2 separate regions of the Homo sapiens genome follow, and region 2 is linked to region 1. The links come from fine-mapping of genetic effects on gene expression. Tissue or cell type: whole blood. Region 1 holds a variant in brackets; the other region holds the start of a gene. All regions are shown on one strand. Distances are between the middles of the regions.

What was found. PIP is the estimated chance that this variant, and not a neighbour inherited with it, causes the effect.
Region 2: DGKD starts here. The variant in region 1 is fine-mapped to the expression of DGKD in whole blood (TOPMed, PIP 0.99).

What each region holds. Positions count from the first base shown.
Region 1 is chr2:233,441,634-233,449,737 of GRCh38, forward strand. DGKD (diacylglycerol kinase delta) reads left to right here. Exons shown (of 30, transcript NM_152879.3): 10 at 254-362; 11 at 3,990-4,129; 12 at 5,079-5,163; 13 at 6,454-6,548; 14 at 6,643-6,742; 15 at 7,470-7,743. Among named protein-coding and RNA genes, the nearest start is that of DGKD, 91 kb to the left of the region's middle. RefSeq lists enhancers at 1,946-2,055, 2,076-2,125. The variant G/A (reference allele first, on the strand shown) is at 3,966.
Region 2 is chr2:233,351,102-233,359,205 of GRCh38, forward strand. It overlaps DGKD (diacylglycerol kinase delta), which reads left to right and starts at 3,393. Exons shown (of 30, transcript NM_152879.3): 1 at 3,393-3,573. The coding sequence starts at 3,418. RefSeq lists enhancers at 2,843-2,902, 3,043-3,092 and a silencer at 3,343-3,582.

The DNA of each region.
Region 1 (8,104 bases):
GAGTGGTCTTGTCGCTGGGTGGGGCGTGGCTGGTGGGAGCAGTTGGCTGGACCCCAGTGCTGCTGTCGTCCCTTTGACAAAGTGGACCCTGAGTGGAGGCGGCTGGTGTCACGTGGCAGGGCCTGTGCGTGCTCTGCCTCTGGTGCAGGTCAGCCATGAGGAGCACAGGTGGCCCCTCAGCCCCGTACTGACAAGCCTGTCATTTGTCCTGTGGAATGGATGTCATTTCACGGCCTTTCTCTTTTCTCTGCAGCTTACGGTTATTCCAGAAGTTTGACACATTCCGGATTCTGGTTTGTGGCGGGGATGGAAGTGTTGGCTGGGTCCTCTCCGAAATCGACAGCCTCAACCTTCATAAACAGGTACCAGGACAGGAGGGAGCCCAGCCAGGAGCAGAGAGGGTGCGGAGGTTAGAGGGAAATCATGCAGTCTCAGCTCCTGTTCATCTCGGAGCACCTGTTCTCAGGCCAGAAACCATTGGTGGTTTTGGGGAGTGTGCAGTTTGGTGGCCAGGGCAGAGAGGGGAGAGCCTGGGCCACCCCCTGGCATTGTGGAGGCCCGGGGGCTCTGGCCATGATGTATGAGGGGGACCTGAAGGGAGCTACGAAAAGAATTGCCCACAAAGGACCCACATGGGGAGCAGGGCTGGGTGGGGCTGTTGCTTTACTGGGTAATTTTTGTCTTGAGGCCTCTTGCTTGTGAGAAGGGGACGGCAGTATACTTGAGTTTCTCAAGTCAGAGTCATGGTTCATTGGACTTAGTTTTTTGTATTAAAATAAAAATAGATTTTCCTGATTGTGTATAAAAATGTTCATATAGTCATTTAATTTCCACACCAAGCCACGGCCTCCCCAGGTGATCAGCCAGTGCCAACATTTTGCTGTCTCTGACCTCTCTTGATCACAGTACATACAATGCACAGTGCACTTGTAATTTAAACGGGCTATTCTGTTACTGCTTTTGTTGTTGTTGTTTTTGTTTTTGTTTTTTTGAGGTGGAGTCTTGCTCTGTTGCTGGGCTGGAGTGCAGTGGTGCGATCTCGGCTCACTACAACCTCTGCCTCCCCGGTTCAAGTGATTCTCCTGCCTCAGCCTCCTAAATAGCTGGGATTACAGGCGCACGCTACCACGCCCAGCTAATTTTTGTATTTTTAGTAGAGACAGGGTTTCTCCATGTTGGCCAGGATGGTCTCGATCTCTTGACCTCATGATCCGCCCACCTTGGCCTCCCAAAGTGCTGGGATTACAGGCATGAGCCACCGCGCCCGGCCTGTTACTGCTTTTAAAAAACCACTAATTAAGATGTTGCAGACACCTTGTGCCTGTGTCTGTAAGTAGGCATCTGTGTGTCGTTTTCCACTGGACACACCCGGGAGCCCAGGGCCAGCTCACCTCCATGTGTGAGCACGGAGATCACTTCCCAGTGGTCTCCTCTCTGAGCGCACCCAAGCTTAAGTATTGAAATGTGCTGACAAACTGCCTTTCCTCAGGGCTGTGCCAGCTTCCATGCCTGATGCCTTTAAAGCTGTCTTTCCCCGTGCACCATCCAAGCTGTTCATCTCTTTAGTTTTTGTCCAGCTAAGTAGACCAAAAAATGTCTGACCTTTACTTCTTTAATTCCTGGTGAAGTTGAACGCCTCCTCAGTTGGTTATGAAGTTTTAAATAAATCACCTGTTCATATTTTTTTTTGCCTCATTTTCTCTTTGAGTATTCACCTTTTTTTCCTTTAAAAATGGGTGTGTGAGGATTATTGTTACATTAACTTCTTATCTGTCACTGCAGATATTTTTTTCCCGGTTTGTCGTTTGTCAGTTCAACATCCTTTTTGGGGGGTGGTCTTTTCTTTCATGATTTTTGTCAACGTCTGTCATATTTGCAGCTGCCTACACCCCAAGATTAAGATTTGCATCTGTATTTTCTTATGTTTATTATGGCCCCATTTTTAAAAAATTCAGTCTTCTGTGTGACGTGGATGTATTTTTCAGTGATTCTGTGGTGCCTACCCAGCTCTGCTCACTTGGTAGTATTTCCAGGTGGGTGGATTTGACAGCTCGGGCCGTGAGGCCAGTGGCTCAGGAGGAGAAGTGGTGCCGCCTGCTGGTGGATTAGCATAGACTACTCTAATTTTTGATTTTGTGTATTACTTGCAAGTTCACTGTCACTAGTTAGGAAGACAGTGGAACCTTGTGGCTGATTTTCATACGTTCAGCCAAGGTCAGCACACATTTCTCTCCCCTGCGTCTCTTTGACACCTGATGTGGTGGCCATGCCTTCGCTGGGCCCCTGCCGCCTCGGGGTTTCTTGTCTTCCTGGCTGCTACTGCTCCATGGTGGCCTCTCCCTCCTTACCCTTCCCTTAACGCTGTGTCCTCAGAGCCTTGCTGGGGCCTCTCCTCCTTCGCTTTTGAACGCTCAGCGACTTGCAGGGCTTCTGCTGTCGTCTCTCTCCTGGGGGCGCCTCAATTGATAGCTGAGCCTTGGGCCTCTCTGGATGTCTCCTAGTGCCTCGAGTTTCCAACACTACACCACGTTCAGCCCCCACCCTGCGTTCCTTTCCTTCGAGTCTGAAAACATCATCCATCTAGATGTCTGAGCCAGGAAATCGGACAGTTGTTCTTGGTTCGTCCGTCTCTTCCTCCTGCCTGTTTCTCACTAATTGTGTCCTCAGTCCTGCCACCCACAGTACCCTGGCCTCTGTCCATCTGCAGCTCACCCAGGCGACCTTTCCCGGGGCATTTCTGCCTGTGCACCCCCCAAGCACGATGCTTCTGGGAAAAGTCCAGACCTTTAAGAGTCCCAGCTTTGCCTCCTGCTTGCTTCTCTGCCTGTCTGCCTCCTGTTTCCTCGCTGTCCTCCTCTTCACTGAGCTCTGCCTTGCCCCCTCCCAGTGGTGTCTCCCTGCCTGGAGCACCATCCATGCCTGCTGTGCGCTGCTCTCCTTTTCCTTTAAGGCTCCAGGAAGCCCTCGCGGAGTCCTCAGACCCTCTGGGCACCCTTCAGCACTGGGTTCTCTCCATCTAGTGTGTCGGCTCCGGTGTCCTGGCCTGCTCGCTCCTGCCTCCCCTACTGCCAAATGTCCCCTTGGTGAGGCAGGACCTTCCCTGGTGTTTGCTGTCCCCACAGGCGGCAGGGCCTCAAGCATGGTCACCTCCACCTGGTGGGCAGAGGGCTGTACGGTGCTGTAGGCTGGACCACGGCAGGTTTCCTGCCTCAAGGACAGTAACGCCTCCCCACACACTCCACCGCAGCCTTCATGGCCCTGGTCACTCTGTTGTCAGAGTCAAAGGCTGGTGAGCTCTGGGCAGTGGGCATTTTAAGAGGCCTCCTAAGCAATGGAATGGTGTAGTGGGATCTCATTGGAGCTCTGAAATGGGAATCCAGGTGGAGGGTGAGGCCTGAGTAATGCATGAGGTCTCTTCCTGGAACAGCAGGCAGGCGGGCAGAGGCTGAGCTCTGGCAAGGCTCCAGGGTAGCCTCCAGACTGAGGATGGTCCTGGCACCTTTTTTGGATAGGATTTAGAGGAGAGAAGTGATACTAGTGATGTTTTTGGAAGAAGAATTTGGCATTAGTGAGTGAGATGCTGTAGTGGATGGAGGGACGGGTGGCGAGGCATCAGAGTGATTCCTTGGGGCTGTGGTCACGGTGGTGAAAATGGGAAGCAGAGGGATTTGGGAGACAGATCAGAGAGGGTGTGAGGGGCTGACCATCAAGATGTGATGACAGCTGAGAGATGGACCTGTGGCTCATCCATTTCTCCCAGAAGCAGCATCTTATCTCAAGGGCAGTCATGTTTCTGTCTCATTGCCAAGGAAAATGCCATCTGTCCCCTCCAGTGGGCTCTGCCTGTAATGTGTAAGCTGCGTGGTTTTAGGTCACGTCCCCACATTGCTAACGTAACCCTCACGGTGGGGGACAAGGAGGGCTGCGGGCTGGGAAGTGGCCCCTGCCCCCAGGTGTTTGCCTGC[G/A]CATCGTCCCCCATGTTTCCTTAGTGTCAGCTGGGAGTGCTGCCGCTCGGCACAGGGAACGACTTGGCCCGAGTACTGGGCTGGGGCTCAGCCTGCGATGACGACACCCAGCTCCCCCAGATCTTGGAGAAGTTGGAGAGAGCCAGCACCAAGATGCTGGACAGGTGAGTGGGGATGTGCTCCGGTGCCGTATGAGGAGACTTTGAGAGACAGGTCCCTTTGACCAGGTGTTCTTAACCTGGGGTCTGTGGAAAACATGGGCCCTCTGAAATTATTTGTAAAGATTTGACCTGAGTATATATTCGGATAGTCTTTGATATTTGGTCAGATTATGACAAGGATAAAAACAAAACAGGTTAAGAACCAGCCATGCCCTAGGATGATCCAGTCTTCCCAGAAGGCCAAGCCTGAGTGTGTCAGGGCCGTGGAGAAGGCAGCTGTGCCATCTTTGGCTGCTTCAGCCCGAGATCTAATACCCATCGGAAGAATGCTCCTTGTCGTTTACTTGAACAGTTTCATTTTCTCATATTCTGTTCCCAGAAGAAGTTTTGGGAAATTATCCTCTAGTGCCTAAAGCCACTGTGACACCTTCCCTGAGTAAGGTACTGTTGTCCCGAGTGACACACTTGGCACTCACTGACCACATGCCTGTGGCACATGGGGTGCTGATGAGATGCCTCCTAGCCTTCCTAGTTGCTCCCAGAAGCCTGGAGTTCTGAGCACAGTTGTGGTTTTGCAATGCCCCCACCATTTCAGGCCTCCTCTGTGTGCCTTGGGGCCTGTGAAATGCTCATCTCACTGGGCCAGCTGGCTGAGCCATTTGCAGCTCTCTTGAGGAGGGTAAATCCATTTCTCCCAGAAGCAGCATCTTATCTCAAGGTAGCCATTTATGGGAGACCTTCCTCTCTTTATGGAGCTGTACTGCCGTTAGTTGTGGAGTGCAGACATTTGTTCTCAGCCAAGTTATGGGACAGAGTCAAGACCAAGGGCCTAAAAATGAAGTCAGAAACGGTGTAAAGATCAAGGCTGCCAGCCGTGAAAGCGGACGGCGCAGGGTTCACCCTTGTGGGCCTGCACGTCTTGCCGCCTGTGCAGCTGACCTTGTGTGTGCAGGTGGAGCGTCATGGCATACGAGGCCAAGCTCCCCCGGCAGGCCTCCTCCTCTACCGTCACCGAAGACTTCAGCGAGGATTCCGAGGTATTGCTGGCCTGTTCTTCACACCCTGCTCGCATGCTGATGTGATCAGAACTGTCCTGTCAGCGGTTTGCATCACCTCCCTTGCAGAGACGCCTCCCCTTTGGTGTTGGGGTGTCACAGTCAGGCCTGCGGAGGCGCAGGGTGAACCCATGGCTGAGAGGATTCTCACTCCCCTTGGCAGGGGCCTTTTGGGCTTTGTGACCCTCTAGGGGCTTCCTGGGGTTGTCATAGGCCCTGCCGGGTGGTGGGGTGGTCCTCCTAATGGCCTTTCCACCCTGTCCGTGCATCTCCTCAGCTGCGCAGTGAGCCCCAAACGGTGCGCGCCCGTTCCCTCCCCCGCCGCGGTGCCCACGTGCCTGGAATGCTCTAGCCGGCTCTGCCGCGGCTCTCCCCTAGCCCCCCGGCTCCTGCCCCGTCCCACCTCTCTGTGGCGTCTGCAGCTGCCCTTCGCTCAGGCTCCTCTAGTCCAGCTGGTGGTTCTTTTCATTTGGTGATTGTTACTGTTGTGTTTAACGCTCCTACAGTTTCCCTCAGAGAACAGACTTTGTCTTTAGTTTCTATTTTGTGCTGGTGCAGTGCTGGGTGGGGTAGTACAAAGAGGTGAGCTTTTGTCAGGGGCTAGGGCAACGGTCAGCAAACAAGGCCTGCAGGCCAGATGTGCCTGGGCCCACGGCCTTGCAAGCGAAGACTGGTTTGTACATTTTTTATTTTTCCTTTTTTTAAAAAAAAATTTTTTTTTTGAGAGGAAGAGTGTGTGGGGGAAGCCCAGAATATTCGCTGTCTGGCCAGTAGTGAAGTTTGCGACCCTGGGGCTGGGTCCTAAGGACAGCAGGGATCCCACAGGGATAGGGCTGCCCTTCTGACAGCCAGAACAGATGGTGGGGGCAGGAGTGTGTGTCCAGATGGGGCTCACAGCCAGGTGGAAACAGCCTCTGCTGCAAACGGACCCAAACCTGGAGCCGACCCGCCAGCATGCCGCTGTCAGGATGAGTAGGGGTCAGGACGGAAGCTCCTAGCACAGGCCGTGCTGGGATCGCAGACTGAAGGAGATTCATTTGCAGTTTGCCTGCAGCTTGACGAAGCTTTTAAAATCTCTCACCTAGCACTAGGTGAGTCCCAGATTAGCGTTAGAAGTGAGTTGAGGCTTGGCTGGGTCAGACAGTGTCTGTTAGGAGAGACTCATCTTTCCCAGCTTGTGCTGGCAAGGAAGTGGCTGACAGAGTCACTGGGACTGTCATGGAGCTTGCTGTCACAGAGACCAACAGTCCTGGCCATTTGGGGTGATTGCAGGTACAGCAGATTCTCTTCTATGAAGACTCGGTTGCAGCCCACCTTTCTAAAATCCTCACCTCGGACCAGCACTCGGTGGTCATCTCCTCGGCCAAGTGAGTGCCTGGTGGCCCTGGGGAGGGCATGGTGCCCTGGCCCCCAGCCTGGAGCTGCCTCTCTAGAAGGGTCTTTCTGTTTTTCTCCCCACAGAGTGCTCTGTGAGACGGTGAAGGACTTCGTGGCACGGGTGGGGAAGGCCTATGAGAAGACGACCGAGAGCTCGGAGGAGTCAGAGGTCATGGCCAAGAAGGTCTGTTCCCGTGCCCTGGGTGGGAGGGGCATTGAGGCAGCGAGAAGCTTGCTCTGTCACCAGCAGAGGGCCGTGACTGCAGGTTGTCCAGGTTCTTGGTGATTTGAACAAAGAATTAGACAAAACGCACAGTAAAGGAAGACAAGAATGAAGCAACAAAGAACGAAGGCAGGGATTTATTGAAAATGAAAGTACACTCCACACTGTGGGAGCTGCCCGAGCAGCGGCTCAAGGGTCCAGACACAGAATCTTCTTGGGTCCAAATACCCCCTAGAAGTATCCCATTGGCCACTTCATGCTCACCTCATGTAAATGAAGTGGTAGCTTGCATTCAGTCTGATTGGTGGCAGAAAGCAGCCAACCAGAGGCTGAAGTGGTTACAAAGGTCACACTCCTGTGCAAACATCTGATTGGTTGCAAAAAGCAACCAATCAGAGGCTAAGGTGAAGTTACAAAGTTGCATTTCTATGCAGACTAAGACTCAGCTCGCAATCAGTATGGTTGGTTGTGGACAGCCAATTTCCCCAATTTCCCACCTGCCAGGGCGGGAAAGGTGGGGATTTGCAAAGGGAGTAGCCTCTGGTCTTTTTGTTACTTAGGCGTGGAGAGTTAGGATTTTCCTTTTGATCGAGTTCTAGGAAGTCTGGGTGAAATGGCCTGAGGTTCCCTGCCTGCAGACCCTGTTCTCCTGCCTCAGCTCTGCATGCCATTTCCTTTCCTTGTTCAGTGCTCTGTCCTGAAAGAGAAGCTGGATTCCCTTCTCAAGACCTTGGACGATGAGTCCCAGGCCTCGTCCTCTCTGCCCAACCCGCCCCCCACCATTGCCGAGGAGGCTGAAGATGGAGATGGGTCGGGCAGCATCTGCGGTTCCACCGGAGACCGCTTGGTGGCATCAGCTTGCCCGGCCCGGCCGCAGATATTCCGGCCTCGAGAACAGCTCATGCTGAGAGCCAACAGCCTGAAGAAAGCAATTCGTCAGATCATAGAACACACAGAAAAAGGTAACTGGCCTTGTGATGAGGAGGGGCTTTCCTCAGGCCAGCACTGGGCATGCCCAGCGTCCCCTGAACACGGAGATGACAGAAGGGTGCATGTTGAGAAAACCTCCACTGCGGCCCTCTCCACCCATGTCCAGGCACCAGACCCCCAACGAGTTCGCTTGCCCTCCTTCCACCCCTCCTCTCACACCCTCAGACCCCTTCATGCTGCCTCCCCTCGACCTCTTTCCTGGCCCTCATTGACTTCACTATAAGCGTCTCACTCCCGTGAGAGCCTTGAGGTCACGGCCTCACACCCGCACACCTGCGTGTCCATGCAGCCGCTCCTCCCGCTTGCAGCCCTCCAGCCTGCGCCAGGCTCCTC
Region 2 (8,104 bases), 91 kb before region 1:
AGAATATAATTCTTACCAAGCCTAATCCTCTTTTTTTAAAATACACTTTTTATTTTGAGTAGTTTTAGATCTACAGAAAAGTTGCAAAGATGTTATACTGAGGTCCCCCACACCCAAAACCCCCTATTATTAACCCTTACATGAGTAGGGTACATTTGCCACACTGAGTGACTCAAATGTTGTTTCCAGTAAAATATACTTATTTCTTTCCAACTTTTATTTTAGGTCCAGGGGGTACATGTGCAGGTTTTTTACATGGGTAAATTGCATGTCATGGCGGTTTGGTGTACAGATAGATACTTTTGTCACCCAAGTAATCAGCACAATAATCCCCGATAGGTAGTTCTTCAATCCTCACCCTCCTCCTACCCGGGAATCAATATTGATGCATTATTATTAAACTAAAGCCCCATACTTAATTCTGATGTCCTCAGCTTTTACCTAATGTCCTTTTTCTGTTCTGGGATCCCATCTAGGAACCCACGTGACGTTTAGTCATCATGTCTCCTTGGCTCCTCTTGTCTGTGACAATCTCAGTACTTTCTGGTAATTGCAGATTTCCTCCTCTCCAGCCACGGTTTCTGCTTCTTAACCGTCACGTTCATGCCCTTGCCTCCTTGACTCTAAAATGATGAGTTCTGGGGCCTGGATGTCCCCTGAGCTCCTAACAGGTGTAGGCAACAGCATTTATTATTATTATTATTATTATTATTATTTTTGAGACGGAGTCTCGCTCTGTTGCCCAGGCTGGAGTGCAGTGACACAATCTCGGCTCACTGCAACCTCTGTCTCCGGGGTTCAAGTGATTCTCCTGCCTCAGCCTCCCGAGTAGCTGGAACTACAAGCGCCCGCCACCACGCCAGGCTAATTTTTTGTATTTTTAGTAGAGACGTGGTTTCACCGTGTTAGCCAGGATGGTCTCGATCTCCTGACCTCGTGATCCGCCTGCCTCAGCCTCCCAAAGTGCTGGGATTACAGGCGTGAGCCACCGCGCCCGGCCGGCAACAGCATTTTAATGGCCTCCCTATTTCTAGTCTTCTCTCCTATGGATCATTCTCTGCCCAGACACATGAGTTCCTCTGCTTTCCCAAACCCCCTTGCCAGCTCCAGTGCCCACGGGACTGAAGTCCTTGCCTCAGAGCAGGGCCGGGAGGCTACTCTGCATCCTGGCGCCGCTGCTCACCTCCCTGCCTCCCGCACCCGCCTTGCTACCGGCTTCACCAAAATCCCTCGTCACCCGCTCTGCTCACCTGGTAGGGGTAGTCTCCCCGTTTTTGCGTTTTCCTGGGAAACTCCCTTCATATCTGACCTCTCCATTCCAATCCCAAACCCTGCTCAGGTCACCCGGCTCCCCCGCGGAATGAAGGAATGAACTGTTTCTTCCCCTGTGCGTCCCCGCCCCTCCTCCGCCTTGCACACTCCTCCAGGGTTTTGCCTCTGTGTATCACTCCACATGTAGTTAATTGATAGAAAAGTCCCAACCCTGTGGGGAGGCTGGAGCCCTTTGTGCCTGCATGAGTTCCCTAGGGCTGCCAGAGCACTGCACCATAGGCCGGGCGGCTTCCACCACAGGAATTGACGCTCTCGGTTCTGGTGGCTGGAAGTGCGAGATCACGGTGTCGGCAGGGGGAGTTCCATCGGAGGCCTTTCTCCTTGGCTTGTAGATGCCATCTTCTCCCTGTGTCTTCACATGGGCTGCCCTCTGTGTGTGTCTGTGTCCTCATCTCCTCTTTTTATGAGGACGCCAGTCATACCGGATTAGGGATCACCCCTGTGACCTCATTTTAACTTCATTACCTTTTTAAAAACCTTAACTCCAAATGCAGTCACATGCTGAGGTACTGGGGGTTAGGACTTCAACATATGAATTACGGGAGGACACAGTTCAGCATGCGACTGTGCTGCAGAACTTTCTGGGGGGACGGGGGAAGTGTTTTATATTTGTGCTATCCAGCGTGGCAGCTGCTAAGCCACATGCGGCTACTGAGTCCCTGAAATGTGGCTCCTGTGGCTGAGGAACGGAATGCTGAATTCTAACTAATTGAAATTTAAGTAGCCACATGTGGCTAGTGGCTATAGTACCCTGGGGCACCATGGGGCCTTCGGCCTGTCCCGGACTGTTCCTGCCTTAGGCCTTGTCCTCCTCTGTCCTGGCCGTGAGCCCATGCCCCTGGCCGTGTCCCCATGCCAGATGCCACTCTGCAGCCCCAGGTCACTGCCCAGGGCGGCGCGGCCAGCGAATGCCTATTGGCAGGCGAGGTCTCTAGCGGCAGCCCTTTGACAGGGAGAGGGCACACCTGGGCAGTCCCTTACTGATTTGCCCCTCAGAGCAGGGCAGACAGATGGACAGCATTTCCTCTGGGTGGCACCAAGCCCTGCTCCACCTGGATGGCACCAAAAACTTAGCTGATCTCATCTCCAGCTTCGCTTCCTCCTCTTCTGCCCAGAGCAGCGCTGGACCCCACCCGCCCACCATCCAGCAGCCCCCCTGGGAAACATGGGACTCGTTCTGGTCACCTCTGTCTCCCTCCAGTCGCTGGTCACTCCCCACCTGGATCTCAGTCCACGTCTCTATCTCTCAGCCCCTCGGTAATCCAGGGCGTCCACCTGCCCTGATAACTTCAAAGCCCGGATCACAGGCCCCAGCGTGGTGACCCAGCCCCGCCCAGGGTTAAATCCCTCAAGGGCTTCCTGCTGCCTTCCATCCCCTTATCTGGTTTCCAAAGCCCGCTTCGACCTGCCCGCCCCGAGGCTCATATCTTAATGCCATTTTCCTTGCTCTAAGCACCAGCTTCCCTTTCTTCCCCCGTCTTCGCCCAACACTCGTTCTTTCTTGCCTCCAGGCCTTTGCACAAATCTGGTCTCTGCCTAGAACATGGTTCCCTCTCTAGTCACAACTCCTGCTCACATTTTCCATCTCTCCTTAAGAACCGTTTTCTCCAGGAAGCCTTCCCAGATGGAGCGGTGCATCCCAGCTCTGGCGTCCCGAGGCCCGTCCCAGTACCGGGGTCTCTTTCCAGCACGCGCGCGCGCATTCGAGCTCGCCCCAAACTCGGCCACACAAGGCTGGGCAGGACAGACACAGCCCCAGCCTGCCTGAGGTTACCTACATTCTGATGCGGAAGAGTAGAGATGTTTTAAGAAGTGAATATAGAAACAAGAACACAAACGGCGTTCCAGAAATAACACACAGAAGCCACGGCCCGGAGAGGTGGGCGGGGGGCCCGGGACGCTTCAGGTGGGGGCGGGGAGGGGCCGCGCGGCGCCGTCTGCAGCTGCGCGCATGGCCGGCAGGGGGCGCGGCGGGGAGAGGCGGGAGGCCGCCCCCACCGCCCCCGGCCCGGCCCGCCCTCGGCCCCGCCCCTCCCGCCGGCCCCGCCCCGCCCCCGCCCGCGGTGCGCGCGCTGGCCCGGCAGCATGGCGGCGGCGGCGGGCGCCCCTCCGCCGGGTCCCCCGCAACCGCCTCCGCCGCCGCCGCCCGAGGAGTCGTCCGACAGCGAGCCCGAGGCGGAGCCCGGCTCCCCACAGAAGCTCATCCGCAAGGTGTCCACGTCGGGTCAGATCCGACAGAAGGTGAGCCCGCGGCGCGGCGGCCCGGGCGCGCGCCCCTCACGCCGCGGCAGCCCCGGCCGAGGCCCGTGGCCCTGCCCGAGCGGCCGCCCAGGCCCGGCTCGGCCCGGCCCGGGGTCCCGCGGGCGTCACCGCCCCTGTCGAGCGTGCCCCGCCGCTGTAACGGGCCGGCGCCCCGGGCGGAGCGCGCGGCCCCCGACGGACGGCGGGCGGCTGTGGGGCCGGGCGGGGGGCGCGCAGGTGGGCGCCCCGGGCGCCGCGCGCTGGGCGGGGGGCGCGCGCCGAGTTGGGCCGCGAGGACCCGGAGGAAACTGAGGCCTAGATGCAGGGGACTGCGCTCGTGCCACCGAGCGGGTCCCACGCGGGGGCTCCCGGCTGCGCCCCGCGGGCGTCCGCGGTCCCCAAACCCCGGTTCTGCACGTTTCTCAGGAGCGGTCGGGTGGTGTCCCGCGAGTGCCCTGCAGACTTCCCTGTGGTGCCCTCAGAAGTCCGCTCGGACCCGGGTGCGAGGGATCACCCCTTCACCCCTTCATCCCAAAAGGGAAGGAAGGGATGCGCGTTCAGTGACCGTCTCTCTCAGCAAAGCCGGGACCGCGCACCCGCTTGGCACCCAACTCTCCACGGAGAACTCCTGACGCTAAATGTTAGATAAAGACGCACGTCCTTTTTGCAGGAGGAAAGTTGCACCGTTTGTTTTCCCATTGTGCTTCCTATTGAAAACAGCTTACGGTTTTTGCTCCAGGTGAGCCCGCCCGGTTAGAACACTGCTTCCTCAGGCAGGTGGCTGGACAGGTGGCTGCGAGCAGGCTGGGTCCCTGGGGCAGCTCTGGCAGATCCGGTTGGCACGGACTTTCTCCTCCTGCTGCAGTGCGCTTTTCCTCCGGGGCGGATTAGGTTCAGCCGTTCCCTTCACCGTGGGAGCCTTCTCTTCTGTCAGCCTTTGATACCTGCGATGGGGGAACCTGAGGTCCTAACATGTTACAAACAGGTTTGTTGTGAAGTGCTCCAGTTATTCAGCAAATAGGTACCGAACACCTGCTTTGTTCCGGGTATAACAGTAGCAGTAGTGATGATAATGATAGCAATAGCAAATAACAATTCTTTAATAAGCCTTCTATGTGCCAGGCACTTTCTTGGGTTAGCTTTACAGCACTTGACATGGTTAGTTTATTAGTACTGGTGAGAACCCAATAAGTTGGATGCTATCATCTCCGTCTTTTGGAATTGGAATAGAAATAGAATCAAGGTTAAATGACTTGCCCAGGGTGTCACAGGTCGTAAATGTGGATGTGTGTTGGAACCATGGTCAGGACCGTAAGATGGAAGGCAGTTTCTACACCTAGGGATTCTCAGTCTAGTTGGGAGATGGACGCCTGTGCACCTGACATGACAACATTGTAAGTGCCGCGGAAACTCGGGGCAGAGACCTGCCCTGGGGAGGCAGGAGTGGTTTCCTTTAAGGTGAGATCTTGAGGGATAAAGAATTCACCAGGCTAAGTGGGTAAGAAATGGCCTTCTACATATTTGAACCTTGCGTCTAGAGCTTTAGGCACAACTGCGAAATGATCAGAAGTTGGGCCAGAGGTGGATCACGTTGATTAGACTTATTAGTTGGAAGGGTTGGTTAGGGCTGAATTTCGAAGGGGTGGTCCTTTGAGGGGTTTGCTTTTTGGCCTTGGGCAAGAGGTGGCCACAGAGGATTGTTCAAAGTATGGGGGTGATGGATCAGATGTGCTTTTGGGAAGATCTCCACATAGCCCTAAATGATACTGATAGGAGTTGCTTTCTCCTGTTGCCCAGGCAAGGTACTGACCAGTGTGGGGTAGATCATGTGATTTACAAGGTTGATTAAGATCAAGATTGTGTTGAGAGAGATTTGATTCCTGGGAGATTCCAGTGTTTAGAATTTTGTTGGTTAGGAGGTGTTTTTGCTTTCCTTCTTTTTTCTCCTAAAACAATAGCTGCTATACCAGCTGTTCTGGTTGAGGAGGAGTGATGGGTAGACTGTTAAAAATACACCCCGAGGACTTAGAGTTTCTGAATACAGTCACATCTGCTGTACAGATAGCTTAAGGCTGATTTTTCTTCTGAGTTGTTAAGAGATTGTCAGAATGTGGGAATGCGAGGTTGACTGTATGTAATAGCTCCATTTTTTTTTTTTCCAGCAGATAAGCCATTCACAAAATTCCTCTGGTATCTATGGTACATAATAGAAACATCAAAAATGGTATGGGGTAGCAGTCTGAGTCTAAAAAGAAAAACAGAACTCACCTTAAGTATTTGGAACAGAAGGAATGTAATCTAGGGGAGTGGTCACACAGGTGATGTGAGAACTGAGAATGCAGGCTGCAATGAGGCAAGCCGGAGATGAGGCAACAAGCAGGAAACTGCTGCCACCCCTAAGTTGGAGGGTGAAGGAAGGAGATGGCATTTCAGACTCCAGGGACAGCTGTCACCCACCAAAAACTGGGGTCACAAGGGGTCCATCTGGCAGTGGCTGGAGCCTTGCAAGGGCACAGCTGCTGCTGCGGATGTACTGTTCCCCTCCTGCCTGGGAACCCTGGCCTTGCTGGGGTCACCTCCTCCACAACTTGGACTGGAGCAGAAGGACAAAGAATGGATCTGAGGACAAGCTGGCCCAGGACCAGAACTGTATGTATGTCAGGCTTTTAAAATATTAGTCTAGTGCAAGTCAGAGCTGTCTTAATGAAGAGAAAAACAAAAGAGAATGTCTTAGGGCAGTGCTCCTCAAATTTTAATGTGCAGACACATCTCCTAGGGATCCTGTTAAAATGATGATTATGGTTGAGTAGGTCTAGGGTGGGTGGGGCCTTAGAATGTGCATTTCTTTTTCTTTCTTTCTTTCTTTTTTTTTTTTTTTTTTGAGACAAGGTCTCACTTTGTCACCCAGGCTGGAGTGCAGTGGTGCGATCTCAGCTACGGCAACCTTTGCCTCCTGGGCTTAAGTGATTTTCCTGCCTCAGCCTCCCAAGTAGCTGGGACTACAGGCAAATGCCACCATGCTGGCTAATTTTTGTATTTTGTTGTAGAGATGGAGTTTCCCCATGTTCCCCAGGCTGGTCTCAAACTCCTGAGCTCAAGTAATACACCCACCTCAGCCTCCCAAAGTGCTGGGATTATAAGCTTGAGCCAATGCACCTGGCAGAATATGCATTTCTAACAAGCTCCCAGAAGATGCTGATGCTGCTGGTCCATGGACCAGACTTTGAAAAACAAGACCTTATGGCACACATGTAAAGAGAAGCCTCTCCAAACTTCAAATAATTCTTCAGGTTATAGATCTTTAGCATATTGAAAATTTGATGTGTGCAGATTTGTGATGGCCATTTATCAGTTTAGCATTTCATGCATGTCTGATTTTTTAATATGTTCGAGCTCTTTAGAGTTGAAGCTGTCCACAGCAAAGACATTACTTCATTTGTATTTCCTGACTACAGTACACAGTAATGACTCTGTAGAACTGCATAGCTAGAATGGAAAGAAAGAAAATGGAGCTAACACTCCGACCAGCACATTCACCAGCACATTATAAGGTATTTTGAAATTTCAGTGAAGAACCGTGTAATTCTGCAAAGCTATCAGTTAAAAGAGTTTAATTTATTTAAAAGTTTCTAGAAAGTTAACATTTTTTGGATATGAGCATGAAAGTGCTTGGATTCCTGATTTTAAATTTAAACAAAGCATTTTTTCCATTGTGAAATGAAGACTAGTAAAAATTAGGTAAAGGGTTTAAGTTGTAAAAAACTTAAAAAAATGCACCGCAGTTTTATGAGATATAATTCACATGGGATACAGTTCAGTGGTTGTTAGTATATTCGCTGTTTTGCAACCATCACCACAGTCAATTTTAGAACATTTTCATCACCCCGTTTCCTCTCAACTCCCTCAACCATAGGCAACAAGAATCTACTTTCTGTCTCTGTGTTTGCTGATTCTGGTCATTTTACATAAATGGAATCATACAATATGTGGTCTGGCTTCTTTAACTTAGCATAATATTTTTAAGGTTCATCCATGTCATGGCATGTATCGGTACTTCATTTCTTTCTGTTGCTGGGTAATATTCCATTCTACAGGCACACTGTATTTTATTTATCCATTTATCAGTTGATGGACATTTGGGTTATTTCTACTTTTTGGCTATTCTGGATAATGCTGCTGTGAACATTCATGCACATGTTTTTGTGTGGACATAGGTTTTCATTTATCTTGGCTATACACCTAGGAGTGGAAGTGCTGGGCCATATGGTAATACTACCGGACTATTTTCCAGCTAAAAAGCTGCCGTAACATTTTACATTCCCACCAGCTGTGTATGAGGAGGGTTCCAATTTTTCCACATCCTTGTCAGTAACTGTTATTATCTCTCTTTTGATACTAGCCATCCTAGTAGGGATGAAGTAATGTAAAAGGTTTTTAATGCCATTTTATTGTCGGATTTCAAAGTCTAAACTTTGGTGTCAGATGAAGTCACTTCAGACCCTGCGCTTCTAGTTATGAAGCATGCGATTGT